6 linked regions of the Homo sapiens genome follow. The protein of the gene in region 6 purifies or fractionates together with the protein of the main gene of each other region. This does not show direct contact. Each region holds a gene or a part of one and is shown on either strand. Other genes may lie near its edges. The genes, in order: SLC25A20, PARL, HS6ST1, C1orf198, SLC25A16 and CPQ.

Region 1 (5,280 bases), on a different chromosome or scaffold from region 6:
TTAAAGTGCTGGGATTATAGGCATAAGCCACTGCACCCGGCCAGCAATCTGCCAATATGTAGCATACCCTTTCACCTGGAAATATTTTGTGTGGAAAATTTATTGCAAGGAATTTATTCTAGGGAAATACTCAGAGGTGTAAAAAGAATAACCTCAGGCACTTATAAGGTACCAAAATTTTGGGGAAAAAAACAAAAGCTGCCAAATAGAAGACAAATTATAAACTCCATAAATGGAGTCACATGGCCAAGAAATCACATTATAACATGAGAAGAGATTATTAAGTAAAAAAAAAAAAAAAAGCTACAAAACAGGATACACAACGTGATCTACCTTCTTTGGGGTAAGATTACAAGTGATTAAGAAAATGTTTTATATTTTCCAGGTATTAAGATGGGACTTTTGTTAGAACTGCACAGCAATTTTCACTAGCACAGTTTAGTAATGAAAGGGAAGATGAGCCTGGGCAGCATAGCAAGACCCTGTCTCTACAAAAACAAATAAAAAATAAAAGTTAGCCAGACGTGGTGGTGTGTGCCTGTAGTCCTAGGCAGTCAGGAGGCTGAGTTGGGAGAATAACTTGAGCCAAGGAGTTCAAGGCTGCAGTGAGCTATGACCTTGCCACTGTACTCTACCCTGGGTGACAGAGTGAGACCCCATCTCTAGAAAAAAAAAAAGAAAGTGAATTATGTGGTAACCAATAAATAATTAGACAGACAGACAAATACATACATAAATACCCTGCCAAACAAGGTGGTAAACGAGGAAGATTCAGGACCTGGGAGACCAGGGGGCCAGTCCAAGAGAGATGAAATGCGTTTCTAGGATGGCACAGGGTGCAGTGGACCTGGGAAGCAGTCAGTCCACAGGGCAGTAGAGGACTCCAAAAGCGATGTTTCCAAGAAAAACAGAACAAGGCTGGGTGCAGTAGCTCATGCCTGTAATTCCAGCACTTTGGGAGGCCAAGGCAGGCGGATCACAAGGTAGGAGATCAAGACCATCATGGCCAACATGGTGAAACCCCGCCTCTACTAAAAATACAAAAATTAGCTGGGTGTGGTGGTGCATGCCTGTAATCCCAGCTACTCAGGAGCTGAGGCATGAGAATCGCTTGAACCTGGGAGGCAAAGGTTGCAGTGAGCCGAGATTGTGCCACTGTACTCCAGCCTGGCAACACAGCAAAATTCCATCTCAAAAAAACAAAACTAAACTAAAACAAAAACAGAACAAAACAATACACACTAGAACAACAGAAAATAACTCCTTAGGCAGTGTGTAGCAAACCAAACAGAAAGGTACACTACAGAGCATTTAGGGTACAGAATGACAGAGACAGTGATTCAAAGACAAACAAAACAAAAGATTTAACACAATTATTAACCCAATCCCAAGGGAAACAAGAAGTTACACAAGGAATGGAATGCACATCATACTTCATACTTACTTAAGAGAAAAAATATATATAAAGTTGTAATCATGAAAATGGTGAATTGGATTAAACCACAAAGGGTGATAAAATCATATGGATGGGCAGGGCAGAAGGAGGGGATAGGGAGACTAAGAGCTAAAATATAAAATAATGTACCACAAATAGGTAGCTAAAAAATATAAAAATGTATAAAATATAATAGTAATGGCCGGGTGCGGTGGCTCATGCCTGTAATCCCAGCACTTTCAGAGGCCAAGGCGGGCGGATCACCTGAGGTCGGGAGTTCGAGACCAGCCTGACCAACATGGAGAAACCCTGTTTCTACTAAAAATACAAAATTAGCCAGGCGTGGTGGCACATGCCTGTAATCCCAGCTACTCAGGAGGCTGAGGCAGGAGGATCGCTTGAACCGGGAGGCGGAGGTTGCAGTGAGCCGAGATCGCGCCATTGCACTCCAGCCTGGGCAACAAGAGTAAAACTCCGTCTCAAACAAAAAATAATAATAATAAAAATAAATAAATAAAATATAATAGTAAATGTATATTATGTAGATAGGTGGAAACAGCATAAACAACTGAAAAAATTGAAAGTAGTTGCCTCTGGAGAATGAAGGAAAGAGATAAATATCACTTTGTTACTTTGTCATAAGCTTCTCAGTAACAAATGAAGTGCCTGTATCAGGGCCTATAATCTCAGGTACGCAGGAGGCTGAGACGGGAGGATCACTTGAGCCCAGGAGTTCAAGACCAGCCTGGGTAAAATAGCAAGACCCCATCTCAAAACCATTTTTTTAAAACAAATACAAAAAAATTTTAAAGTTTCTCCTTATAGAGAGTAGCAGGAGAATCAGGGTGAGGCTGCACACTGGCAGGGCTCCACAGACCCAGGCTGAAGAACCTGCCTCACTGCAGACCCTGGGTATCCAAACTTTCTTTTCAGAATCAAAGTGGCACAACTGTACCTGTCAGCATTCCTCCTAATTCCTGCAAAAGCCTAAACTGCTGCAGGCTGCAGGTGGACTCCAAGAACAAAGTACAGAGGCAGTAAATGGGAAAAGGACAGAGATCTGAGGAGGATCTGCAAAAGTAGCATATGACAAAGTCCATTCAAAGCCATTCCCACAGCTCCCTACATGAGCTAAAAGGATGACCAGGTCCTGAGAGGTCAAGCCCATTCCTCCTGAACAACTTGTCTAGTCTTCCTTCCACTAGAATGGCCAACCCAGTTCCATGTTTCACAACCTACAGACCCCTGCCTGGCAGCTCCAGAAAGCAGAAAGCTCAAATCTGGCACAGGAAAAACCAGGACATGCACAAATATGGACTAAGGAAGCCTATTCAACTCTTCAAAGACTTGGGTTTATACAAGACATTCTCACCACAACTCCAGGACCCAGCACATTGCCCACCCCTAGGCAGGTGTTCAATAACGTCTAATGACCAAGAGGCAGGTAAGCCTACCTTCCTTCTGTAAGGGCAGAGGACTCTAAGTGGACCTGAAGCCTAGAACCTCCATCAGACACTGCTCAGACTCTACCCTGGGCACTAGAGATGTAAGGAGGAGGAGCTTAAAGAAGAAAGAACAAGGCCAGGTGCCATGGCTCACGCCTGTAATTCCAGCACTTTGGGAGGCCAAGGAGGGCAGATCACGAAGTCAGGAGTTCAAGACCGGCCTGGCCAATATGGTGAAACCCCATCTCTACTAAAAATACAAAAATTAGTCGGGCATGGTGGCAGACGCTTGTAGTCCCAGCTACTCGGGAGGCTGAGGCAGGGAGAATTGCTTGAACCCGGGAGGCGGAGGTTGCAGTGGGCTGAGATCGTGCCACTGCACTCCAACCTGGGTGACAGAATGAGACTCCATAAAAAAAAAGAAGAAGAAGAAAGGGCAGGCCAGGCGTGGTGGCTCATATCTGTAATTCCAGCGCTTTGGGAGGCTGAGGCAGGCAGATCACCTGAGCTCAGGAGATTAAAACCAGCTGGCCAACATGGCAAAACCCATCTGTACTAAAATTATAAAAATGAGCTGGGCATTGTGGCAGGTGCCTGTAATCCCAGCTACTTGGGAGGCTGAGGCAGGAGAATCACTTGAACCCAGGAGGTGGAGGTTGCAGTGAGCCAAGATCGGACCACTGCACTCCAGTCTGAGTGGCAGAACAAGACTCCATCTCGAAAAAAAAAAAAAAAAAAAAAAGAAGGGTAGCACCACCTCACTCAAGGACGGTTGGGCAGGCACTGCCTCAAGATCTTCCTAAGCCAGATGCAGTGGCTCATGCCTGTAATCCCAGCACTTTGGGAGGCTGAGGCGGGCAGATCACAAAGTCAGGAGTTTGAGACCAGCTTGGCCAACATGGTAAAACCCCATTTCTACTAAAAACACAAAAATTAGCCGGGCATGGTGGCAGGTGCCTGCAATCCCAGCTACTCGGGAGGCTGAGGCAGGAGAATCACTTGAACCCGGGAGGCAGAGTTTGCAGTGACCGAGATTGCGCCACTGCACTCCAGCCTGGGCAACTGAACAAGACTCTTGTCTCAAAATAAATAAATAAATAAATAAATAAATAAATAAATAAATAAATAGTTTAAAAAGATCTTCCTTCTGCACCCAAGTCCTACAGGAATCCTGGGAACAACTTCGCCAAGGCTGAGTCCATCACTTACTATCACTCCCTTTTTATCTGGATGACTACTACTTAGTTTCTGTATATTTAATCAAGGCTATAAATTTAGAGACTATAATAGAGTGTTTATATGAAAGTTATATTTTAGGGCCAGGCGTGGTGGCTCATGCCTGTAATCCCAGCACTTCGGGAGGCTGAGGCGGGTGGATCATGAGGTCAGGAGATCGAGACCATCCTGGTTAACATGGTGAAACCCTGTCTCTACTAAATATACAAAATTAGCCAGGCATGGTGGTGCATGCCTATAATCCCAGCTACTCAGGAAGCTGAGGCAGGAGAATCACTTGAACCAAGGAGATGGTTCAAGAGATTGCGGTGAGCCAAGATTGTGCCATTGCACTCCAGACTGGACAACAAGAGCAAAACTCCGTCTCAAAAAAAAAAAAGTTATATTTTAGGAAGCAAAGGAAAAGATCTCAATGAGGTCTTTAAGACCTGTGTTAATGAAGTTATTTATTATTATTATTAATATTATTCTTATTTTGAGACAGAGTTTTATTCTTTTTGCCCAGGCTGGAGTGCAATTAGCCAGGCATGATGGCACATGCCTGTAATCTCAGCTACTCGGGAAGCTTAGGCAGGAGAATCTCTTGAGCCTGGGAGGCAGAGGTTGCAGTGAGCCAAGTTCATGCCACTGTAGTCAAGCCTGGGCAACAGAGTGAGACCATGTCTCAAAATATATATATATAATAATAATAATAACTCCAAACCAATTTAATGTCCCTGTCTAGGGGAACTGGAGACTGATAGCTTCTCTCAGTGTTTCTAGGACTGGCTGACTTTTCCTTCAGACTTTATTCATATGCGCTTCTGACATGGATCCCTATCAAACTGACTGATCCAGATGCAGGTGTACATTTTCTTTTTTCTTTTTCTTTTTTTGAGACAGAGTTTCACTCTTGTTGCCCAGGCTGGAGTGCAATGGTGCAGTCTCAGCTCACTGCAGTGTGGGCAAAGGATTACCTAGGTGCCGAGGCAACAGACTGAAGGCACAAACTGTTTCACTATAATAAAGAAAATAGAATAGTTATAATACAAATTAGATATAGAGATGATCATGGACATTATCAATCATTAGTATAAACATTATTAATCATTAGCTTTTAATATTACTCTTTGTTGTATTACTAATATAAACAAGAAATAACCGGCAGGTATAGGGTCCGGTGCT
Region 2 (5,890 bases), on a different chromosome or scaffold from region 6:
TAACTGAGGCTTCAGCAAGTGCACCCACTCAAGAAGTGTATGGAATGAGGGAGACGGCAGCCACGGCATGTTCCTAGGTACCCCACACTTCAGATGCCAGTGGAGGCGGCACAGCCCAAGAGGCCCACGGGCCAGGGAGTGCATGGCCTTGAAGGCAGTGATCGCGGGTCCCCAGAGAAGCCAAGAGGAGAAAGTGAAGCACCCTCGTGGGCAATCAGGAGGGAGCTGTGGACAGCAAGGCTTCTCCGGCCACAGCCAGGTTCTGGCCTCCCCAGGCCATGCACAGAGGCTCCAGCATTGAGGGGTTTTAGGGACCAGGAGATGCTACAGGGACTTCTAACTTTTTCCCAGTCACAAAGCAGGGACACAGAGATGTCTTCATTGCCTCTTTGCCTGGTCTGCCCAAAGCACGATGTGAATTAATGTTGGGCTCTAGAGGGAATGTCCCTATGAACTCAGCCTCCTATCCCATCTCTGGAAAACGCATCTTGCCTCATCTGTGTTGCAGAGTTGTTAGCAGATGTCAGAGCAAAGCATTGTGACCTTGGGCAGTGCCCCTACACCACGTGTGCCGTTTCCTCGCTGGCAAAATGATGGCTAAGATAACTCTCTCCCCTAGAAGTGATACGAGTTTAGAACAGAATCCTGTGCCTGGGAAGAATAACTGTAAATCATAGTAGAAACAAGTCCAGCCTGATGGAAGAAGGATATGAAGGACTGCCAAATACTGGACAATTTCTATGTGCTGGGCGCGTGCTGCCATGCAGTTCTCACTTGCCTGGTGAGGTGGGCACCACTCCCACTCCTTTTCCAAAGCCGCCATTCCCATCCCCCACGGCACACAACCTGAGTCCGATCGGCCACAGGAGGCTGAAATCAGGGCCTTCGATCCTCCCAGGACAAAGCTGCAAGACTTGGTATAACATTTTGAAGCCATCAAAAGACTAAAAATTCTCCTGTAAATGACTTCAAGAAGAACATACTCTCAAACTGCATTTCCTAGATGTCATTCTCAGTCACGAGGGTAACATGAATTCCACAACAGTGAGGCTGTGACGACGACAGCCACTATCTGCTATTTCAGTGAGACGCTTCAATTAGAACACTTTCAAACAGAAGATAAAATTCGGCTCAGATTCAAGTCTGAATTTACCCAAATCACTTCTTTCTACCTCTTAATTTATCTACAAATTGAACCTAGAAAGCAAAACCTGAAAATAGCTTTTTGTATATGCCACTCACTGCCAGAAAACACTACCTTTCCTGAAAATTGAGAAAATACTGCAGCTGTTATTTCAGATTGTGCTGGAGAGGGGATACTCTCGACTTTTATGTGCAGCCAACCCAGGGGAGGGGGAGGCAAGGAAGAGTGAAGGCTAAGCAGAGGCACTGGAGGGTCCAAAGACAGGCAACCAGCGCCTTCATGTTCTGATCAGGCCTTTCAGGGTGCACTCTCCCCAGGTCCTGTCAATGCAACAACCAAAGCAAAATGCCAGAGCCGTGTCGGCCCCTTAAAGAGAGAACACACACATCTGCTTACAAACTAGATAGAAACCTTTATTTCACAACTTTATCATCATTCACATTCTAAAAAGACACGGACTGGGGGACACAGCTGAAAACAGTGGGAGGCCAGATGCTGGCATCTTCCAGACGGGAGCATAGCCATGGTCACTCTAGCCGATGTCTCCTGGGGCTCTCAGGCGGCAAGGACCAGATGCACCACTACTGTCCAATCCCAGTTTTACTTAGAGCCACCTCCTTTTTTGGGGCCATTAGTCCTTATTTCATGCCAGATTTTCACTAGCGGCTCCCTGTTCTTCCAAATCAGTTCATGACCGTAAGTAACATACCATCTGGAGAAAAACAAACCAGGTCCGACATTCAAACAGTGTGACATACAAATGGTAAGTAGCATGGTGACAGATCCCAAGTTGACATTTTTAAAATCGAATGCCACTCACTATGTAGCCGATTAAAACTGACTCACATCGAGAAATGGTTTAGCTTTCATATTACAATATGTAAAAGGTAGAAGTAGGATGGGACGATGGCTGAATGCTCCGCAGTGTGTGAGTACTTCACATATACTACTTTTGATTCACCACTATCTGCAAGTTAAGTATCAGTTTTCCCATCGCAGACATGAAGCAACCAGGTCTGAAAGAAAGTAGTTTGTCCAAGGTGCTAATAGTTTCTAAGTGGTCAATGAAAGCTCACTCGCAGGTCAGACTGACTCGATGTTCTGAAGTGTCAGAATTAGCACTGACTCAGGATGGCTATCCCAGCTTCCATGCCTCCCGTCATCTTCCTCCTAACTATACGAAGGGTGGCCCGCTCATCCAAACTCTGCCCCGCTTTAAGATACCTAGTTCCCATCCCCACTCTCCTGTTCACACAGCCTAACTGCGGCCTGAAGCAACGAGCCTGGGAGGCTGACGCACAGAGAGGTTTAGTAACTTCGCCTGCTCAGGTTCCACAACTAGGAATCAGCAGACTGAGACTAGAACCCGAGTCTGCTGCTGAAGCCTGTGCTGCAGGCACTGGACTTTCCTGCAGCGTGTAGGGAGCATCTTCTGTGAGCTGGGGAGCACACTGCGCTCTGGGAAGGGCCTGCCTTGGAGAAGCTCCTGAGGGCACTGGGGGTAGAGAAAGGCTTCCTGGAGGATGTGGGGTGGATTTCCAGGGGCAGTTAGTGAGAGCTTGCTATTAAAACCTTTATTTTTGCTCTGGCTTCCCCAAACAGATTTCATGTTCCCTGAGGCAGAGACCAGATTTTGTTATCTTGCATCGAGCTCCCAGACACCTGACTGAAAAAATGCTATTTGACTTGGAGTGGGTGAGAAGAGCAGTTTAATGTTTTAATATTTTAAAAATGTTCTGAATGTGTATGTTTAATTATAAAGGGCTTGATTTGTACCTGAATCTTAATATTCACTAAATATAGTTAAAATCTGATTATACACATTAATTAACAGGCATGTAATAAAAATTCTCTGTGCTTAAGTCTCTGGTGAATTTAGAATGAGAGAAAAAGGAGCACCCTAATATTCAAATGCAATTATAAAAATTCTCCCCAAAAAAATCACTTTGTCAGGAACTCTTCATTAATAAAGTGTTTTCCCAAATCTTTTTTGTTGTTAGACAGAGTCGCGCTCTGTTGCCCAGGCTGGAGTGCAGTGGCGTGATCTCAGCTCACTGTAACCTCTGCCTCCTGGCTTCAAGTGATTCTCCTGCCTCAGCCTCCAAGTAGCTGGTATTACAGGCATGCACCACCACGCCCGGCTAATTTTTGTATTTTTAGTAGAGACGAGGTTTCCCCATATTGGTCAGGCTGGTCTCGAACTCCTGACCTCAAGTGATCTACTTGCCTCAGCCTCCCAAAGTGCTGGGATTACAGGCGTGAGCCACTGCGCCCGGCCACCCAAATCTTTTTAACCTACTTATTTCAAGCAAAGAGTCAAATACTTTAATTTCACAGGTATACTGTCTGATTATACTCATAAATCCAAAAGGAATTTTTCATTTGGCTAAACTAAAATCGGGAAATGCAAGATGACCGATTTCTAGGGCACTCTTTTCTGTAGCGGCAGCGCAAGCCAGCCCTCATCTGAAACTCCAGCTCTGCAATTGTTACTTGTGTGACCTGGATAAGTTACTTTCTTTAAGCAGTTTCTTTTTCTGTAAAATAAAATACCTCACAGGATTTTAAGAGAATTAAATCCTTAGCTTAGGCACACAGCAAATATTCAGCGTATTAATATGTTAGCTATTATTATTGCAACAGTACAATGTGAATACTGTAAGGTTTGGTCAGAGGCAAAGTCAGGGAAATGTATAAGTGGATACTAATGGAGTCTTTACCACCAACAAAATCAGGGCACTTCAACGAAAAAAAAATAAATAAAAGATTTTAGATTTCTAAATCTAGATTAAAGCTTTTAGAAAAGATGAATTCTGGACATGACTGAAATCTAGTAAATGAAAAGGAGTTTAAATTAGAAACAGTAAAGAGAAAGGATTCCTCCACCTTTCAGACCCTGGACTTTAAAATGCATTTGATCCAATTATTTTCAGAATGGAAAAAGGCCACCTAATTATAGTTCAGATGAATAAAAATCTACTGGGGAGAAGAGCCTTGAAGTATACATGGAAGATAAATTTAGAGCTCACAAAACAGAACCCCTTCATGTTTCTCATACTGTAATATCAGGTCAGTTTCTACTATTTATACTGCACTGCTGTTAGAGCTAGACCTTGCATATACTACATACTACTCCTCTTTAATCACTTAAAATTATAAATGGCATAATGGCATTTAGTTCTGCCACCTACTGGGAAAAACTGCTTCACTTAGAATAGATTTTTCTTTTTTTTTTTTTTGAGACAGAGTCTCACTTTGTCGCCCAGGCTGGAGTGCAGTGGCGTGATCTCGGCTCACTGCAAGCTCTGCCTTCTGGGTTCACACCATTCTCCTGCCTCAGCCTCCCGAGTAGCTGGGACTACAGGCGCCCGCCACCACGCCCGGCTAAGTTTTTTGTATTTTTAGTAGAGACGGGGTTTCACTGTGTTAGCCAGGATGGTCTCGATCTCCTGACCTTGTGATCCGCCTGCCTTGGCCTCCCAAAGTGCTGGGATTACAGGCGTGAGCCACTGCACCTGGCCAGAATAGATTTTTCTTTTTAATAAAAAAAAAAATTAAGTTTTCCATTGTCGCGGAACAAAATAAAAACCAAGTAAGGGCAAAAGGCAACATTTATGTAAGAAAAGACAGGCCCCGAGGGGATCCAGCTCATGCTGACGGGTCTCCCACGATCAGATGGACGCCAAGAGTCCTGACCGTGTTTCCGTGATACAGTTACTACTAAGCACTAGTCTAGGCAAAACCCCATTGTTTGAAGCACACGTGGAAGGTCTTGTAACCACAATGCCATTTGCTGTGACCCAAGGAAGCAGTTTAGCAACCAATTCCATATGGTGTGGTGGGGGTGGAAAGGGCTTATAGAGGTGGGTTTACAGCTCTGCTCTGCTATTGAAGAGCTGTTTGGCCTGGGGAAGATGATGTCTGAGCCTCAGTTTCCCATCAGTAAAATGGGAGTAGTAATAGTATAACATAAGGGAACTAGCTTGGTGCCTGCATACAGCGGGTACTCAGTAAGTGGTCCACATTGGTTTGCAGTCACCGGCCTCTACTCCAGTCATACAGAGCAATGGCTCCGCCAACTCAGCATGTCTAAATAGCACTGGCGAGACAGAGGTCAGGGTAGCAGGGTGGGACGCCAGGCAGGGGAGAGGAGGGCAGGAAAGTCTGAAGGGGAAAAAGAAGATGTCAGCATAGACTGGGGGCCAGGCTGCAGTCTTCTAAGAGGGGGCTGGGAATAACAGGCCAACAGTTGGGGCAACTTAAGGTTAAGCGTAGGGTAAAGGCACAGACTGTCTCTACAATGAGCCAGGTATGCTGGGTAAACCCAAAGCAAGCCACGTTGAGGTTTCCTCACCCTCCCAAGCCCACCTGCTTCTGCTTCCGTTGCATAGTTCAATGTCTCTGCCATGGGGATGGGGGGTAGGGGTGAGGCTGGGGTAGGAGGAGCGCATGACCCAAGGAAGCAGTTTAGCAATCAATTACACTCAAACTTACATTCCAAAAAGAGCTCCCCCAAGATGTGCCGCATGATCAAAAAATTTCCATCCCAGGATCATTCCTGCTGTATCCATGGCGATAATGGCTTTCAGGGCCTGAAAGGCAGCAAGAAACAAGCGGCACAACTGTGATTGCTCCAGCACTGACATTTCTAACTTAAGGGCAAGAACCCACTCAACATAAAAACATCACCACTATCCCCAGCACTGCACTTCATAAAAATACTTACATTCCCTGCTGTGAACGTGA
Region 3 (5,280 bases), on a different chromosome or scaffold from region 6:
AGGTGAGGTCACCTTGAGCCAGGCCTCTGGCTGGGTGTCCACCTCCTGCCGGGAAGCCAAGGTGCCCCACGTGGCTTGTGCAAGACCTCACAATCCCCTGAACGTGTTCCTCCTCCTCCAAGGAGTGCACCCACCCCCATGTTGAGTGTCCGAGCAGATTCCCATTGACCCTGACCTCCCTTTGAAAGAACCACACCACTAAATCCCCTTGGCACTCACTTCCTTAGTGTGATGCATCCACCCAGGGAGGTGGCCCTGCGCGGCGCTGGCACGCTGTCCACCCTGCCCTGTTGACCATCCTGTCCTTGGACCCCAAAGTAAAATGGGGCCAGTGTAGGAGACCTGAGGGTGGGGCCCTTATGCCAGACCTCCAGGGGTAGCGACCTCACCTGACCCCAGCTTCGGCTTCCTGTGCTGCAGAAGGCGCTTGCTCCCAAGCCCGTGGTGACCCACGTCTCCACCCCATGGTGTGGCAACTGTGGTGGCTGAGTGGAAGCTGGGGCAGGAGAGAGGACCCCCACCAACCCCAGCCAGGTGGCCTGCAGAGCCCACTGCCCTACCTCTGAGTCAGCCTGCGGCCTGAGCACACCAATCTACTCTCTGGGGGATCCAGGGTGCCTGTGTGGGCCCTCCTAGAGACACCAGCTTGGCCTCCTAGGGCATAAGGAATGGGGACAGGGCACAGGGCACGTGCTTACAACGGATATGCAACATGGCTTTTGGTAGGGCCATTGCAGCCAGTGGGGAAACCTGCGCGGCTGCTGGGAACAGAGCATGGCCAGCCTTTTGCCAGGGGGTGGGGAGCATGGGGAAATGCAAGGAGAGCCAGGGTGGGGAGGGCTGAGTGTCTGTTGTCAGGGAGGCCACCTACAGCTGTTTTGCCAAGGCTAGTTGAGAATCTGAAAGCTCGAGTCCCAGTTCCTGGCCATACAGAGCCACTGTGGTCCGAGGGTACGGCTCCTGGGCAGGGGCTATGGTCCCATGCTCCAGCCGATGGAAGCCTGATGAACTTAATCCGTACGCTGGTGGGAGCAGTGGTATTTGAGCTCTTGAGTATGTGTTTCGGTGATGGGGCTGGGGCAGCCTGCTAGCAAATCCCAGTGGGTCAGAAAGGAGAACAGAGGCAGGGGAGCCCTCGGTCCCCAGCCCTTCCAGTCTGAGCCAGGCCTGCCTGGATGGTCACCTCCAAGGGCCAGCCGCGGACTCACGCACAAGTGGCAGCATCCCTGGCCAAAGCCTCCCCACTCCTGGGCTGCCAGTTGGCCCGAGGAAGGCCGGCAATGCAGCTCGGGCCTACTACCCAAACCCCTCCTTGGTCTGAGGACTGTAGGGAGTGGGTGGGGCCTGAACATCAGCTTTGGCCTCCTGACCCAAAGCATGAAGCAGGACCATGGGCCAGAGAGGGGAGCAGGCTTCCTGGGGGCTGGACTCGAGTCTTCTCTGCCTCAGATGGGGTGGGCCCTGACTTTGAGGGAGCTACAGATGGGTGAGCTGGGGGCTCCCCAGGCCTCGGGGCATTGGGGGCAGCCAGAAGAGGAGGGGCTATGGGATGGCCTGGAGCTGGGGCAGTTGCCAGAAGCTGGTCTCACTCCTAGTAGCCCGGACAGAGGAGCTAAGAGCGAGTGCTGTGTGCATAGTTGGTGAGGGACACACTCCCGGCCTGGCAGGTCCACTTTCCGCTGTCCTCGTCTCTTGCGCAAACCTTCAGTTTTTGCGATAAATCCAAGGAGGCCAGGAGAGCAGCTCCAGGCACAACACCTGCTCTGGAGGCCCTGCCCTGACCATGGCATCCTTCGAGCACGCTTTCCTCTGACCCACTGGGCTGCACCTGTTGATTTCTCAAGCCCCCATCCCTGCCCAGCCCCACTACATCCCTGCTCTGTTTTTTTTCAGGACGCAGCTACCTCTGTGGAGCAGGTTTGGGATGCTCATCCCTTGACAGTCTTGGGTGGACCTGTCGTCTGTCCTGTTTTATCCCCCACACCCCCCAAGAGGCCTCCCCGTGGCCACCACCGCCACTACCACTTCTCAATGATGTGGCTCATGTAGTCCTCGGTGGGCACGCGGCCCGGCTCGTCGGCATCCTCCCGCGGCAGTGCCTCCTTGGCCCGGTGCAGCAGACGCTCCTCGCGGCTCCTCAGGCGCTGCTCCCTGCGCTCCAGCTGCCGCTTGTACTGGTAGCGCTGCTGGAAGAGGTCCTTGGCGTAGTCGTACAGCTGCATGTCCAGGTCGTTGAGCTCCTCGATGCGCCGGATGGTGTCTTCATCCACCTCCACGCCGCCCGCCCGCGTGCTATTGTACTGCATGAAGGGCCGGATGAACTTGAGGTTGAACGTCCGCTCGAACAGGTACTGCGTCTTGCGCTGGAACTCGGTCAGGCCGAAGAAGGCCATGCCCCGCAGGTTCTTCTTGGCGCTCTCGAGCAGCAGCTGGGCCCGCTTGCCCTCGGGGATGAAGGACAGGTTGTAGCAGCCCACCAGGCTCAGGTCGGCCAGCATGCGCACCTGGCGGTTGTTGGCCAGGTTGTACGGGCAGTCCATGAACTCCTGTAGCGTGCAGCCCGACCAGTCCGTGCCCTCGTAGCAGGGCGGCAGCTCCTCAGGCGTGGGCGTGCGCCCATCACACATATGCAACGACGTCTTCCACGTGGCACCCCTCTGCACATGCCGCCACTCGCTCAGGTAGCGGGACACGGGGTCTCGTAGCAGGGTGATGTAGTAGAACTTCCTGCAAGGAGACGGGGAGAGGAGGTGAGGGCTGTGACGCAGCATGAGGGGGGCTACCAGGGCTGCTCTGAGTCAAAGTCCCCACTACAGGAGTTTGGGCTTCGCCTCTAATGCCAACCAACTCCTGCACTTAGCTCTCAGTCGTTTCAAAACCCGGTATCAGAGATGCCAAGGAGCATGCCACGGTCACATGGCTACCCAGGATGACCACCACAGTGCCCTGCAGCGCCTGGCCTGGCTCCTCTGGAGGGACAACCTGACTTTTTCCTGCTGGTGGGTGGAGCCACCAATACCGCATCCAGAGAAGTCGCAGAGCCACAGCCGCCTGAGGCCAGCAGTCTTCACCAGCTGTTTACAGCCTGGGCATGGTGCCACCCAAAGAGCCACTCAGCAGGAACAGAAGGTGGGCAGGGGCCAGCGAGGGTCACCTCCAGTCCCAGTCCCAGGGTCCTGCCAAGGCCTGGTGGTGGTTGGGGGGGGGGTGCCCAGCGGACCAGCCAGCCCAGGACCCCAGAGGAAGCCATGACGTATACACCAACTCTACTTGCTGGGTTGTCCCCCAAGACACCAACGCATTGCACAGTATGTAACGGTGCGTGCACAAGGGAGAAACGACCCAAGGAAGACTCCACCTCCCACCCTCCCCTGCGCGGCAGGAGCCCAGCATGAAGCATGTCCTTGCCAGGCTCGCTATGACGCTGGGCTGGAGGCGTCAGGACACTGGACAGGTGGGTAAAACGTGGTGGCGGCTGTGGATATGCCCGGTGTGTGTGTGTGGGCTCAGCCCCGGGAGAGGCTGCAGTCATTCTTAGAGGGCTCCTCCTCCTGGCTCCTGTCCACGCTGGGGTGGGTGGGCTTCAGGCCAAGTAGAACCAGGGCCAGGCAGGCAGCCTAGGAGCCCACAGGGCCCCTCACTGCCCGGGGGAGCAGCTCCAGAAGGGCCCTGACCCCCCGCCAGGATTCCCCAGATGGCAACATGGAAGTGTACCCACACTGCTCCCCTCCTCCCCTCACACTGCCCTGGGCAGGGGTGGGGGTGGGGGGCATGGAGGGACCCCGGGGAGCACAAAGCGCTTCTTGGTGTCCGCTGGCAACTGCCTGATCTGACCGCACACCTCCCTGCAGGGAGGGAGGCACAGTGCCTGGCAAGTGGTGCGGTGCCACTGCAGGCCACCCCCGCCTATGAGGACATGTCAGAAAGCCCCAGGGGTGGCAGCTCTGAAGCAGGCGGGGTAGCCAGTGATGGCTCCAGGGGCAGGCAGCAAGGCCAGCACTACTGCATGCAGACTGCCGAGGAAGGGACAGGCAGCTGTCATCCGCCCAGTGTTTTCTGTGGCCTGGCAGGCTCAGACCCTGCCCTGGAGGAGCTCTCAGCAGATGGGGTGGAGGAAGGACCCAGCAGGACTGAGCTGACGACCCCAGGGTCAGGCACGGCTGGTCTCCAGGGGGCAGATAAGCTGTGGGCAGCAGGGGCGAGAGCAGGCCTCAGTTTCCCTGCTCCAGGCTCCCACTTCACACGTCCCAAGGCACACCTGGCCCTCCCCAAGCACCCTGCACCCACAGCCTGCCTGGTACCACCCATCCATGCTGATGGCAGCAGCTCCTGGGCACTCGGGGCCTCAAGGGCCAGAGGGCGGGACCTTCTTCAGGTAGCAGGTGAGACAAACGTTTTAGAAACAATAATGACCAAGGGCCAGGGAGTAAGGGCCCGAGGCGGCCGGGGCAGGCTTCTGTCTCCTGCCTCAGGCTCACGAGGCCCTGACTGCTCAGAAGAGGCTATCCATATCCTTCCTAGCTGACCCTGTGTCCAGGGGAGGCATAGGGCCGCATGGACCTCCGCTCCCCACTCCTGTGGGGCCGTGACCAAATGGATGGAGACAGGCCAGTGTGGCAGGTTTCTTCTGAACACAAAAAACCACAGTGTGATGTGTCCACCAACAGAGAAGCTTGCCCTCCTAGCCCCAGCCAATGACCCTGTGAGTTACAGCCACAAGGACTCTGGCCCCAAGGGTGACTCTGAGGGCAAGGACACGCTGTGCACAGTGCAGCAGGCCCCATCTGGGAAACACAAATGGCTCAGTTCCTCTCCCATTTTCAGCGCCCCAGCCCACAGGCGGGTCCTTCAGCCCCAGCCCCACACCCATTCAGGGACCATCCCCTGAAGCCCAAGGCATGCCTCCATCATGAGCTCCTCTGCCCATGGCCCAGAGAGGGTGTGTGACTTGCCCAGGGCCACAGAGTCATGACACTGGCCAGGGTCTGTGCTAGCTGACTGGAAGACCTGCAGAGCAAGCTGCCCTGTGCCTGGTTAGCAGCGGGGACAGATCCCGTCAGAGGCCCAAGCATGCAAGGGCTTGGCACCCTGCAGATGGGGTCTCCCATGGTGTAGCCTGTGCCTGTGTGTGTATCGTGCAGGCTCCAGAAGACGCTGATGAGCCTTAGAGCCTGCTGGTCATGTCTGGAGCCACCTAGCCAGCGCTGGGCCTAATGACTGAGGGAGCAGGCAGAAGTGGTGTGAGGCCCCTCGGTGGAAGGGCTGCTTCTGGGCTGGTGG
Region 4 (5,280 bases), on a different chromosome or scaffold from region 6:
TAATTTTTTTAATTTTTAGTAGAGAAGGGGTCTCACTTGTTGCCCAGGCTGGTCTCAAACTGGGCTCAAGCGATTTTCTATCCTTAGCCTCCCAAAGTGCTAGGATTATAGGCGTGAGCCACCACATCTGGCGTATTAATTTATTTTAGAAAGAGGCAGGGAAATATGAGGGAGTAGAAATGGTGAGGGAAGAGAGAAGTCTTCAGAATTGATTTTAGAAATGATTGAGATTACAAATTGCTTGTTCTGCAGAGCTTGGAAGACAACATTCTACTCCAAAGAGGAGGTTTAGGTTGCCATGTAATGATTTTGTTGGTCAAAACAGCTCAGCAGTGTCATTTTTAGAGATCACTGTGGTTAGCAGCATCCAGATCAAGGAAAGCATTTTGTGGGTGCTCAGATGTGGGGCATAGGCTGTGATGGGTGCCAGGCCCTGCCCTGCCCTCTGGGTGTTTGTGATCTGAGGCTGGGTTCTGACCCTGGCTGCGATGTGGCCTTTTGTTGCAGTGTGCACCTTTCCTCGTTATCCTCCCAATGAGGGTCGTCACCTGCCAGGAAGGTGCTAGAACCACACTGGAGGAGACAGGAGGGTGCCCTGTTTACCAGGCAGAGAGCCCTTACTCATCGGTAATACTCAGATATCTTGAGCTGCATGTAGCATAGTGCATGAGGGAGTGTATCAGTGTGTTCTTGTGTTGTTTTAAAGAAATACCTGAGACTGGGTAATTTATAAAGAGAGGAGGTTTAATTGGCTCACGGTTCTGCGGGCTGCACAGGAAACATGGCATCGGCATCTGCTTGGCTTCTGGGGAGGCCTCAGGGGGCTGTGGCTCATGGTGGAAGGCGGAGGAGAGCAGGTATCTCACATGGCAGAGCAGGAGCAAGAGGGAGAGAGTCAGGGGGAGGTGCCACACCCTTTTAAACGACCAGATCTCATGAGGACTCACTATCATGAAGACAGCACCAAGCCATGAAGTCACCATCATGAAGACAACATCCGCCCCTGTGATCCAGACACCTCCCACGAGGCCTCACCTCCAGCACTGGGGATTACAGTTCGACATGAGATTTGGGAGGGGACCACCACCCACACTCTGTCACCCGGCCTTGGCATTTAAGCTTCTGATGCATTTCAGGTGTGCGATGGGAGTCCTGACCATACCCACCACTCAGGACAGACAGTTCCAGCACATGGGCAACAACTCGTGTGTGGCTGGTGTGCGTCCTTATGCTGAGGAGGGGTGCGTGAGCTGGCACACTTGTGACGGTCGATTCTCAGGATCTCTTTCTTTTTTCTGTCCTTTCTCATGTCCCACCCTAGAGTCAGATGGAGTTCAGTATCTCCGCCCTATCCATCCAGGAGCCGAGCAACGGCACCGCCGCCAGCGAGCCCAGACCACTGTCCAAAGCTTCCCAGGGCTCCCAGGCCCTCAAGTCCTCCCAAGGCAGCAGGTCCTCCAGCCTGGACGCCCTGGGCCCCACCAGGAAGGAGGAGGAAGCGTCATTCTGGAAGATCAATGCTGAGCGGTCCCGAGGGGAGGGGCCTGAGGCCGAGTTCCAGTCGCTGACCCCTAGCCAGATCAAGTCCATGGAGAAGGGGGAAAAGGTCTTGCCTCCCTGCTACCGGCAGGAACCTGCCCCGAAGGACAGGGAGGCCAAGGTGGAAAGGCCCAGCACCCTCCGTCAGGAGCAGCGTCCTCTTCCCAACGTGAGCACCGAACGTGAGAGACCCCAGCCTGTCCAGGCCTTCAGCAGTGCACTGCACGAGGCTGCCCCCTCCCAGCTCGAGGGGAAGCTGCCATCTCCTGATGTCAGGCAGGACGATGGGGAAGACACCCTGTTCTCGGAACCCAAGTTTGCACAGGTGAGTGGCCTTTACCAGCGCGTCCTCAGATGGGATGGTGCCTTATTCCACGGGAACCGAGAGGGTCCCCCACAAAGCAGGCAGGCCACAGGTGCCCATGCTCTTTTTCTTCTCCTTCCCCTGCCTCTTCCTCAGAGGATGCCTAGGCTCAGGGTGCTGAGCCACCAACAAATATGCAACAAGACAAGTTTTGCGAGTCCATCTGGGTGCCCTAATTTGTTTACCAGTCAGGGTTCCGTGGCCCACTGCGCTTTCCCCAGTGCGCGGGCTGCTATCAGAAGAGGCCCCTGGAAGGCGCTGCGCCCAGGGCTGTCACAGCTCAAAGCTGTGTTGGGCCTTCTTTTTGGGAGCTGTCCATAGAGGCAATGGTCTGTTCTTTAGGACTGGTCTGGATTTGGGCCAGGGGAGCTGCCTGTTGGCAAAGCAGGCAGGCACACTTGAGAGGCCTCACTGGGTCTTGCCCCTCTGTGGGCCTCGCTGGGCTCCTGGCTGCCTTGCTGAGGAGTGAGCCCAGGATGCAGTTGCCTCCATGGTAGCCTCACCCATCCTCCTCTGGCCCTTGAGACTCCTTGGTTCTTGTGGGTCACTCTTTTTTTTTTTAATTTTTATTTTTTAAATTTTTTATTTCCATAGGTTTTGGGTGGTATTTGGTGACATAAGTTCTTTAGTGGTGATGTGTGAGATTTTGGTGCACCCATCACCCGAGCAGTGGACACTGAACCCAATTTGTAGTTTTTTATCCCTCACCCACCTCCCACTCTTTCCCCGAGTCCCCAAAGTCCATTGTGTCATTCTTATGCCTTTGCATCCTCATAGCTTAGCTCCCACTTATGAGTGAGAACATATGATGTTTGATTTTCCATTCCTGAGTTACTTCACTTAGAATAATAGTCTCCAATTACATCCAGGTCGCTGCAGATGCCATTAATTCATTCCTTTTTTGGCTGAGTAGTATTCCATCGTATATATATACCACAGTTTCTTTATCCACTCATTGATTGGTGGGCATTTGGGCTGGTTCCATATACTGAATTTTAAAAGTTTTTATTATGGTAAAATATACAAACATTTACCATTTTAACCATTTTACAGTATAAATTTGGTGGCATTTCAGTACATTCTCAATGCTGTGTAACCATCACTACCATCCATCTCCAGAACTCCTTTCATCCTGCAGAACTAAAGCTCTGGACCCGTTCAACACTAACTTCTCATTCATCCCTCCCCGCAAGCTCCTGGCAACCACCATTCCACTTTCTGTGTCTGTGAATTTGACTCCTCTAGGTACCTCATATAAGTAGCACCATATAGTATTTACCCTTTTGTGACTGACTTACTTTACTTAATGTGACGTCTTCAAGGCTCATTCATGTTGTAGCAAGTGTAGAATTGCCTTCTAAGGCTAATATTCCATCGTGTGGTTAGACCACATTTTGTGTATCCACTCATCCATCGACAGACACTTGGGTTGCTTCCACCTTCTGGCTATTGTTGTCTGTTAGGAATAGTGCTGCTGTGAACGTGTATGTACAAATAAGTCTTCCAGCCCCTGCTTTCCCTTCTCCTGGGTGCATACCCAGATGTAGAATTGCTGGATCACATGGTGGTTCTATTTCTACTTTTTTGAAGAACCTGCATACTGTTCGCCACAGCAGCTGCGTCATTTTACATTCCCATCAATGTGGGTTCGCGTTTCTCCACTCCCTTGCAACACTTGTTATTTTCTGTGTCTTTGCTGGTGCCATGCGAAGGGGTATGAGGTGGTGTCTCACCGTGGTTTAGACTTGCCTGTCCATGATCGTGAATGATGTTGAGCCTCATTTCATGTGCTTATTGGCCATCTGTGTATCTTCTTTGGAGAAATGTCCAATGGTCCCTTGCCCATTTTTAAATTTTTGGTTATTTTGTTGTTGAGTTGAGATCATCACTGATAACATTGAATGTCCCCCAGAGCAGGTTTCCAGTACTTCCACACCTCCCTCGGCAGATGGCTGCACGTGCTGTCCTCCCGAGGAGGGAGGATCCAGCGGTGCTAGTACCTTCTGCCCACCTCGGCTCCACATCAGTGCTCTAGCCTGTCCTCTTCGTGTTTCTGCACCTTCTTAAGCTAGTGCTTTCAGCCCTCTTGTTTCCTGCCTTCTCCGGTACCTGCCCATCTCTCCGTTCTGTTTTCTGTCTCACATCCTCCTGCCCATCAGCTCCTCCTTACAGACAGGCTCAGTTCCCTGCCTCCCTAACCAGCACTCTTTCTCTGAGACTCGGCACTGAGGGCTTCCTCTGAAAGAAGTATTTCCATAAAATAGGTGATAGTCCCCACTCTAAAGAGAAGCAGGAACGTGTTTCTGTGTGGGCAGTGGAGAGTAGGAGACAGCACATGAAATTCCTTTGAGAGAACAGATTTCTGAGTAAAGCACAGTGAAATGCCACTGCATTTAAGAAACTGGAAGGAAACCAGAACAAGGAAAACTGGATTGCACTCCTTCCATTCTGCATGTTTTGCCTCACTCTGCACCAGTCTCACATGTAGCCAAACTGGGCCTGAGACAGGTGTCAAGGGCAAGCCCATTAGCCCATTGCCTGCTCTTGCCGCCATGTATGCATTTTCTGCTGGCCGGCTGCTTGGAGGGTGGAGAGTCAAGGTTTCTTTGCTCAAGAAGACCTTGGCGCACCAGGTAAATGCCTGCCGGTGTTAGGCTGGAGGAAAGGGACATCAGAAACAGGCTGCTGAGTGGAAGCCAGTCAGAAGTTTTATGAAAACAGCAGCAGCTTGAGACAGCCCATGCTCACAAGAGGGGACCTGTCAGTTAAGCCCTTTCCCCTGAAAGAAGAATGACATTAAACCAGGCCTTGTGGTGCACGCCTGGTGCATGCCTGTAGTCCCAGCTACGTGGGAGGCCGAGGCAAGAGGATCGCTTGAGCCCCGGAGGCTGAGCTTAGAGTTTGGGAAAATCACTTCATAACCTTTCACAAGATCTGAAAGAAATAAGCTTCACATTCTTTCCACACTATGTTTACTTTCTCAACTTTACAAGTTCTTTTTTGTTGTGTTTGTGTGTGATGTTTGTTTTATATTTGAAGGAATATCTTTATCATTTGTTCTCTTATTTAGGATGAATAAATTTAAACATGGCTGTCATTCAGAAACAGAAAAGATTTATAGAAAAATACAGAGACATTGTTCTTTTCTCTGTAAGGTCTGTAAGCTGCTCACAGACATGCCTGGGGTTGAAGAGGGGTTAGTGTTGGATGCTGGCAGAGTATAGATTGCATTGAACTGTATTTAATCTTCTGATTTCAAGCACTGAGATAAATTGAGGTCAGGGAACCTCTGAGACAGAAGTAGGCTCTTTTATCTGGGTCGTTTTAAATGAGATGCTGTTTTTAGATTATACGTAACTGAAAAAAAGAGGCTCGTC
Region 5 (2,513 bases), on a different chromosome or scaffold from region 6:
AGTAGAGACAGAGTTAACACTATGTTGGCCAGGCTGGTCTTGAACTCCTGACCTTGTGATCCGCCCACCTCAGCCTCCCAAAGTGCTGGGAATACAGTAGTGAGCCACCGTGCCTGGCCTGGTCTTGATCTCTTGACCTCGAGATTCGCCCACCTCAGCCTCCCAAAGTGCTGGGATTATAGGCATGAGCCACCATGCCCCACCGCCTTTGTCTATTTCTTTGACTCCATCTGTTGCTACTCCTTCACGCACAATACTTCAGTCACACCAGCCTTTCGGCAATTCCATTGTCAAACCAAACTTTTTCCTGTTTCAGGGTTTTTGTGCTTGGCGTTCTCTTCACCTGGGCCAGTCTTTCCCCTGAACTCTTTGCATGGCTGTTTCCTTTTCATCCTCCATGTGTCTGTTGAATGTACATATAGCACATCAAAGAAACCTTTCCTTGACCATTCTCAAGTAGCTTATTTACTGTTTTCATAAGCACTTTCCACAAGCTGTAATTATTTTATTGCTTGGTATGTTTATTGACAAGTTCAAATTTAATGACATGTTACAGTTTCATTTGAACAGTGTATTACTGTATTAAAGTATAGCATCATAGCTAAAAGAATAGGCTCTAGATTCAGACCGGCTGAATTTGAATCCTAGATCTGCCACTTACATGAACCTGGCCAAGTAATTTAATCTCCCTAGGCCTCGATTATTCCCATCTGTCAAAAAGAAATATTAAATGGTACTTATATCATAGTATTGTAATGGAGATTGAGCTAAGGCATCAAAGGTGCTTAAAACAAGGAATGCCACATAATTCTTCAGGAAATATATGTAATTGTTATTATTTATCACCAGTTTCTAGTGCCCAATACTAGAATGTGTCTGGGTTTCAAAGAATAGATGCGAGGAACTATGTAAAGTGTATGCTTGCTATACAAGTGTGTCAGGTATTATTGATCCAACTCTGCAAGGCAACCCATTAATTGTACATAGTTTGGGAATAATCCTTGGGGAAAAAAAATAAATAATTATACATAGGGTTTTTTAAAAAAACATTTTATATAAAAAAATGAGACAGAGTCTTGCAATGTTGCCCAGGCTGGGCTCGAATGCCTAGGCTCAAGTGATCCTCCTCGCTCAGCCTCCCAAAGGGCTAGAATTACAGACATGAGTCACTTCACCCAGCCATAAAAACTATTTATAAGTTTTATTTTATATATATATATGATATGTATACATATATTTTTTATTTTATATATTCATTTATTTTTATTTTTATTTTTTGGGACAGAGTCTCACTCTGTCACCCAGGCTGGAGTGCAGTGGGGCAATCTTGGCTCACTGCAACCTCCGCCTTCTGGGTTCAAGCAATTCTCCTACCTCAGCCTCCCAAGTAGCTGGGACTACAGGCGCCCACCACCATGCCTGGCTAATTTTTATATTTTTAGTAGAGATGGGATTTCACCATGTTGGCCAGGATGGTCTTGATCTCCTGACCACGTGATCCGCCCACCTTGGCCTCCCAAAGTGCTGGGATTACAGGCGTGAGCCACCATGCCCGGCCAGGTTTTATTATATATTTGCCACTCATGCTGGCAAATCAGCAATAAGACATTTCTGCGAAGCAAACCAAATGACTTTATTCCTAAATTGTTTATTTCTTGAACTATTTGTGCTTCATTTCTGCCTGCTAGAACATAAAGTCTTCAAAAACAGGGACTAACCCTTCCTTCTACCCACCAGTAAACATCACTGAGTACCACTCTGACGCCATACCCTGTGCTCCCTGCCCTTGAAGGAACCAGATATTGGGATGTGGGGACACTGATAAACAGGCAGTTAGCAGAAAGTGTGGCACATACTCTATTAGAGAAATACCTGGTGTTATATGCTGATTTGGGAACCCAAATCAGATTGCAAGTACAGCTAACAAGCCTCCCAAGGGAAGTCCTCCATAATGCTGACACAAGGTCTGGCACACAATTGGTGCTGAATAAATGGATGGTCAGTACCACGGTGAAGAATGGAATGAGGACAGGAGCACTGGCTCATGCCAGTAGTCCCAGCATTTTGGGAAGTCGGGGGGGCAGATCACTTGAGGTCAGGTATTCAAGACCAGCCTGGCCAACAGGGCAAAACCCAGCTCTACTAAATACACAAAAATTAGCTGGGCGTGGTGGCGGGTGCTTGTAACCCCAGCTACTCGGGAGGCTGAAGCAGGAGAATCGCTAGAACCCAGGAGGTGGAGGTTGCAGTGAGCTGAGATCACACCACTGCACTCCAGCCTGGGCACTCCAGCCTGGGCAACAGAGTGAGGCTCTGTCTCAAAAAAAAAAAAAAAAAAGAAAGAAAAGAAAGAAAAATACAAAACTCAGCTGGGCATGGTAGCACATAGCTGTAATCCCAGTTACTTGGAAAGATGACTCGGGAAAATCGCTTGAACCCGGAGGTGGAGATTGCAGTGAGCCGAGATTGCACCACTGCACTCCAGCTTGGGTGACAGAGTTAAGACTCTCGTT
Region 6 (4,660 bases):
CTAGCCTGTCTTGCCTCTTAATTACTCCTTGCTTTTCTACAGTTTTACCACTTCATACTTTACCACATATATGTATATGACTATATATAACAATTATACGTGTACAGATATACAGTTTAATATTGCCTACTTTTGAACCATATCCTCCAGATATATTTCTTTAGCTTGCTTTTTCCATTCAAACATATATAAGATTTATCTATGCTGTTGTGTATAGCTCTAGTATTTTCATGTTTTATTGCAGTATATTACCTCTTTGTATTTATTTATCCATTTTACCAACAATGGTCATTTAGGTGGTTTCCAGTTTTCTATTACGTGCTGCTACCAACACTATCAAGGCTTTGAATGTAGGAGTGGTTTGCTGGGCTATAGAGTATGTGTGTGTTCAATTTTACCGTGCAATTCCAAAATGTTTTCCTTTTCAATTTACACTTACACTGTTAGTATATGAGTCATTCTCTTGCTTCACATAGTCTACAGCACTTGATATTGTCAAACTAATTTTTGTAAATTTGGTGAGTGTGAAATGCTAACATTTCATTTTCAGTTTTAAAAGAAACTAATTGTGAGATTAAGTATGTTTTTACATGTGGATTTTTTTGTCATTTATGTGTGTTTTCTCTTTTGTGAAGTTCTTGTTCATGCATTTTGCCCATTTTTCAATGGATTTGTCTTTTTCTTATTGACTTGTAAGAGTTCTTGGCATAATTTAGACACTTCTGTTAGTAAGTTTGTATATATCATTTCCCAGTTTGTGGCTCATCTCTTTACCCTGTTTAGTGTGTGTTTTGATGAATAAGTGTTTTTACTTTCAATGTAGTTGGATTTATGAATATTTTCCTGTAAGATCCATACTGTTTATGTCTTAAGAAGTCCTTCCTTACCCTAATATTACAAAGATATTCTCTGAAATTCTATTCTAAATTTTAAAAATATTTTATTTTCATTTTTAAGTTCTCTACCCATCCAGAATAGGAAATGATTTTTGTGTTGGGTGTGAGGTAGGATTCTATTTTCAGTTTTCCATTGCCTAGAAACATTTATTCATTAGTAGTACATCCTCTTTCTCCACTGATCTGCGGTACGGATTGTGCCATATTAAGTTTCCTTATATGTTTATTTTGGGGCTTTCTAATTGTTTCAGTGATCTATTTGTCTATCTCTGCAACAATGCCACACTATCTTAATTGCTATTACTTTAGAATCCTTGATATCTGTTAGGGCAAATTCCCTCACTTTCTCTTCCTTCTTCTTCAGGAGTGTTTTGATTATTCAGAACCATTTGCTCTTTCAGATAAATTTTAGAATCATTTAAATATACTCCAAAAGTATTTTTGGATTTTGATCAGAATTGTGGTAATATCTATTTTAAATTGGGGGGAACCGAACATCTTTTTATTAGAATATTGTGTTCTTATCCATGAAAATGGTGTGTTTATATATGTTTCTATTTGTCTTCTTAATGTCTTTAAAGTTTTATAACAGTTTTACATCCCTTTTGTTCATTTTCTTTCTTTGATGGCTTATATATTTTGTTGCTATTGTAAATTTTCATTTTGAAAAACCTACATTTTCTGTTTGTGGCTCTCCAGTTTTAGTATCAAGGATGTATCTGATGCATAACATGGTTTTCCTTCTTTTTTTTATACATTCTGGGATAGTTTGTGTAAGATTAGAATTATTTATTTCCTGGTTATTTTGTAGAACTTTTAACAAAGCCATCAAAGTCTGATGTTTTCTTTATGATAACAATTTTAACTAATGATTCAATTTCTTTCATGGTTATTGGCTTATTCAGGTTTTGTACTTATTCTTGAATTAACTATGGAAATTACATTTGTCTAGGAATTTGTGAGTTTTGTCTAAATGCTCAAAATAATTGGCATGAAGTTGTCAGTAATATCCTGTTTTTAATTTTAGTTGATGTCTGCAGCATCTATAGTGATGCCCTCTTTTTCATTCTTGATGTTGATTATCAGTGTCTTCTCTGTTTTTTTTTTAAATCTTGCTTGCAGTTTGTCAGTTTTATTAATAATTTGAAGAAAAAGAAAAAATGATGACTTTCATTTTTTGGATACTTTCTATTATTTAGTAGTTGTTCTTCCATTGATTTCTGCTCCTAAGTTTATATTATGCTTATATTATTTTACTCCTCCTTTCTTTGGATTTATTTGCTTTTCTTTTTCTAATTTTTGGAGTTAAACACTCAGTTTATTACTCTGCAGACGTACTTTGTCTCTAGCATAAGCAGTAAGGCTATAATCTTCCCTCAATACTGCTTTAGCTGTATCTCACCAGTTCCCATTAGTAGTTTCATGACAATTCAGTTCTAAATATTTATTAATTTCTAGTTTTACTTTTTCCTTGACTCATGAGTTAGAATGCATTTTTTTAATTTTCAAAAGTATGAAGTTTTCTGAGTTATTTTTTTCATTATTGATTTCTAATTTAACTGTTAGAGAATGTTGGCTGTATGATATAGATTCTTTGAATTTTGTTGATGTTTGCTCTATGGCCTAGTATGTGATGCATTTTTGTAAATATTCCATGTGTATTTGAAGAGAATGTGCTTTCAGTGCTCTGTGTAAGTCCATTAGATCAAGCTTCTTAATTGTGTTCTTCAAACCTTTTAACTCCTTACTGATTTATTGTCTATTTGACCCATCAATTTTGAGAGAGATGTGTGAAAATGTCCCTCTGTGAGATGTGTGAAAATGTCCCTTTGTGATTTTGAATATTCCGTAGTTCCAGTAATTTTTTAAAATATATTTCAAAGTTATGCTGTTAGGGGTATACAAATTTAAAATTATGTATCCCTGGTAAATTGAAAACTCATCTGTAATGTTGCTTTTTGTTCTGGAAGTCCAGTTTTTCCTAATAATTAAGATAGGCACACCTAGTTCTTTTTGCAGAGTATTACCCTGGTATGTCCTTTCCCATCGTTTTACTGGCAGCCTTTCTCTATCTCATACTTTTAGGAGTTTCTCTTATGAATAGTTTAGAGTTGAATTTTTTTGCTTCTATCTGTTTATTATGTTTTCTAGGTTTCTTTTTTTTCTTTCTTTCTTGCCTTCTTTTGGGTTGATTTTTTTCCCTTCTCTCATTCCTTTTCCCTCCAACTCTATAGTTTGGAAGCTACATGCTTTATTTCAATTCTGTCAGTGGAGACCTTGGAAATTATAGGTTACATATTCATCTTAATAAGTCTAAAGTTAATCAATATCTTATAAAGTACACTAGTGGCCCCAAGTTTTGTACTTGTCCTAGATGCACCCACTGCTCATTAAAACCCATGCTCTAGGCAAACAGGGATTAGCAGACAAATGCCAGGCCCCAGGGTTTTCTTACTTCTATAGATTTTCATTATTTCTATTATTTCTCACCTCTGAGGAATTCCCTTATTTTGCCTCTTGCTAAGTCATGTATTATTAAAAGGCAATTATTATTATATCCAATAACTATTTTAGGGAAGGGGAGGTATGTTTCTATGTGTTTCTGGTAACCACATTGCTAGGATTTCCCTCTTCAAATCCCCTACCTCCTGTCTTGTGGACTGGACATTGCCATTGTTCTTGAGCCCTCCATTGCCCCAGGATGCCATCTAGATTTTCTCCAAGCCCAACCCACGTTCTTACAACTTTGTACCAGAGTTTTCCCCTATCTACTCCCATAAACCCCTTGCTCTGGGGTGGAGTACTTAGGATGTCAACAGACAGATATAGGCACAGGTATTCCAGATGAACAGAACATGTGAGCGTTCCAGTTTGGTTGACACTGGGGGGTAACTTGGGCTAATTATTGGCAGATAAAGTTGGCAACTACCTGTGGAAGGTCCTAAATGTCAGGCTGAAAATAGACTGAATGTAGTTCATAAATGTGGAGCCATGGTGGTTGGGAGGATGAATGAGAAGGTGGGGTGACTAGAGATGCACCTTAGGGAGATGCTCCAAAAAACATGAAGGAGAAATTGTGTGAACAACTACGAAGGTGAGTAAACAGCTGGAGAAGAGGTCCAGTCTGAGGAGAAGTGAGAGGGACCAGGGCCAGATGATGACATCTTGACCTCCAGAAGGCACAGATAACCACATTTCCCAGTAGAAAAGCCAGAAGTCCTTTTTTTTTTTTGAGACGGAGTCTTGCTCTTCGCCCAGGCTGGAGTGCAGTGGCGTGAACTTGGCTCACTGCAAGCTCCGCCTCCCGGGACTACAGGCGCCTGCCACCACGCCCAGCTAATTTTTTGTATTTTTAGTAGAGAAGGAGTTTCACCGTGTTAACCACGATGGTCTCGATTTCCTGACCTCATGATCCGCCCGCCTCGGCCTCCCAAAGTGCTGGGATTACAGGCCAGAAGTCCATTTTAAAACCAGAAAATACTTTATGCCATGAACTCACAGCACACCCAGGGGAGACAAATCTGTATGTTTACTCTGGTAGTAGCTAGAAAGCACTTTAACAGAAACTGTGACATTTTAGAGTTAGTTGAAGCTGGTGGGGAGTACATGCTCTCTGGACCCCACAGAGTATCAGGTGAATGTCAAATTCATGTACAAGGACAGAGTCAAAACCTTCAAAGAACAGAAGTCACTGAGGGTGAATGGAGGATGAATTAGAATTGTGGATGTCAGGAAACAGGAAGGGACATTTAATTCCAGCAGAC

The links.
Region 1: the proteins of CPQ (region 6) and SLC25A20 purify together in Homo sapiens (affinity purification with mass spectrometry; one large-scale study listed by BioGRID and IntAct). This does not show direct contact.
Region 2: the proteins of CPQ (region 6) and PARL purify together in Homo sapiens (affinity purification with mass spectrometry; one large-scale study listed by BioGRID and IntAct). This does not show direct contact.
Region 3: the proteins of CPQ (region 6) and HS6ST1 purify together in Homo sapiens (affinity purification with mass spectrometry; one large-scale study listed by BioGRID and IntAct). This does not show direct contact.
Region 4: the proteins of CPQ (region 6) and C1orf198 purify together in Homo sapiens (affinity purification with mass spectrometry; one large-scale study listed by BioGRID and IntAct). This does not show direct contact.
Region 5: the proteins of CPQ (region 6) and SLC25A16 purify together in Homo sapiens (affinity purification with mass spectrometry; one large-scale study listed by BioGRID and IntAct). This does not show direct contact.

What each region holds. Positions count from the first base shown.
Region 1 is NC_000003.12:48,884,608-48,889,887, forward strand, and holds part of SLC25A20 (mitochondrial carnitine/acylcarnitine carrier protein), read right to left. Parts: intron 1-5,280. UniProt on the Homo sapiens protein: Mediates the electroneutral exchange of acylcarnitines (O-acyl-(R)-carnitine or L-acylcarnitine) of different acyl chain lengths (ranging from O-acetyl-(R)-carnitine to long-chain O-acyl-(R)-carnitines) with free carnitine ((R)-carnitine or L-carnitine) across the mitochondrial inner membrane, via a ping-pong mechanism.
Region 2 is NC_000003.12:183,827,854-183,833,743, forward strand, and holds the end of PARL (presenilin-associated rhomboid-like protein, mitochondrial isoform 1 precursor), read right to left. Parts: coding exon 5,871-5,890; intron 5,737-5,870; coding exon 5,639-5,736; intron 1,857-5,638; coding exon 1,745-1,856; 3' UTR 1,418-1,744; downstream 1-1,417. UniProt on the Homo sapiens protein: Required for the control of apoptosis during postnatal growth. Essential for proteolytic processing of an antiapoptotic form of OPA1 which prevents the release of mitochondrial cytochrome c in response to intrinsic apoptotic signals.
Region 3 is NC_000002.12:128,266,144-128,271,423, forward strand, and holds part of HS6ST1 (heparan-sulfate 6-O-sulfotransferase 1), read right to left. Parts: intron 2,728-5,280; coding exon 2,019-2,727; 3' UTR 1-2,018. UniProt on the Homo sapiens protein: 6-O-sulfation enzyme which catalyzes the transfer of sulfate from 3'-phosphoadenosine 5'-phosphosulfate (PAPS) to position 6 of the N-sulfoglucosamine residue (GlcNS) of heparan sulfate.
Region 4 is NC_000001.11:230,839,938-230,845,217, reverse strand, and holds part of C1orf198 (uncharacterized protein C1orf198), read left to right. Parts: intron 1-1,321; coding exon 1,322-1,864; intron 1,865-5,280.
Region 5 is NC_000010.11:68,477,498-68,480,010, forward strand, and holds the end of SLC25A16 (solute carrier family 25 member 16), read right to left. Parts: 3' UTR 501-2,513; downstream 1-500. UniProt on the Homo sapiens protein: May be involved in the transport of coenzyme A in the mitochondrial matrix. Very little is known about the physiological function of this carrier.
Region 6 is NC_000008.11:97,137,356-97,142,015, reverse strand, and holds part of CPQ (carboxypeptidase Q preproprotein), read right to left. Parts: intron 1-4,660. UniProt on the Homo sapiens protein: Carboxypeptidase that may play an important role in the hydrolysis of circulating peptides. Catalyzes the hydrolysis of dipeptides with unsubstituted terminals into amino acids.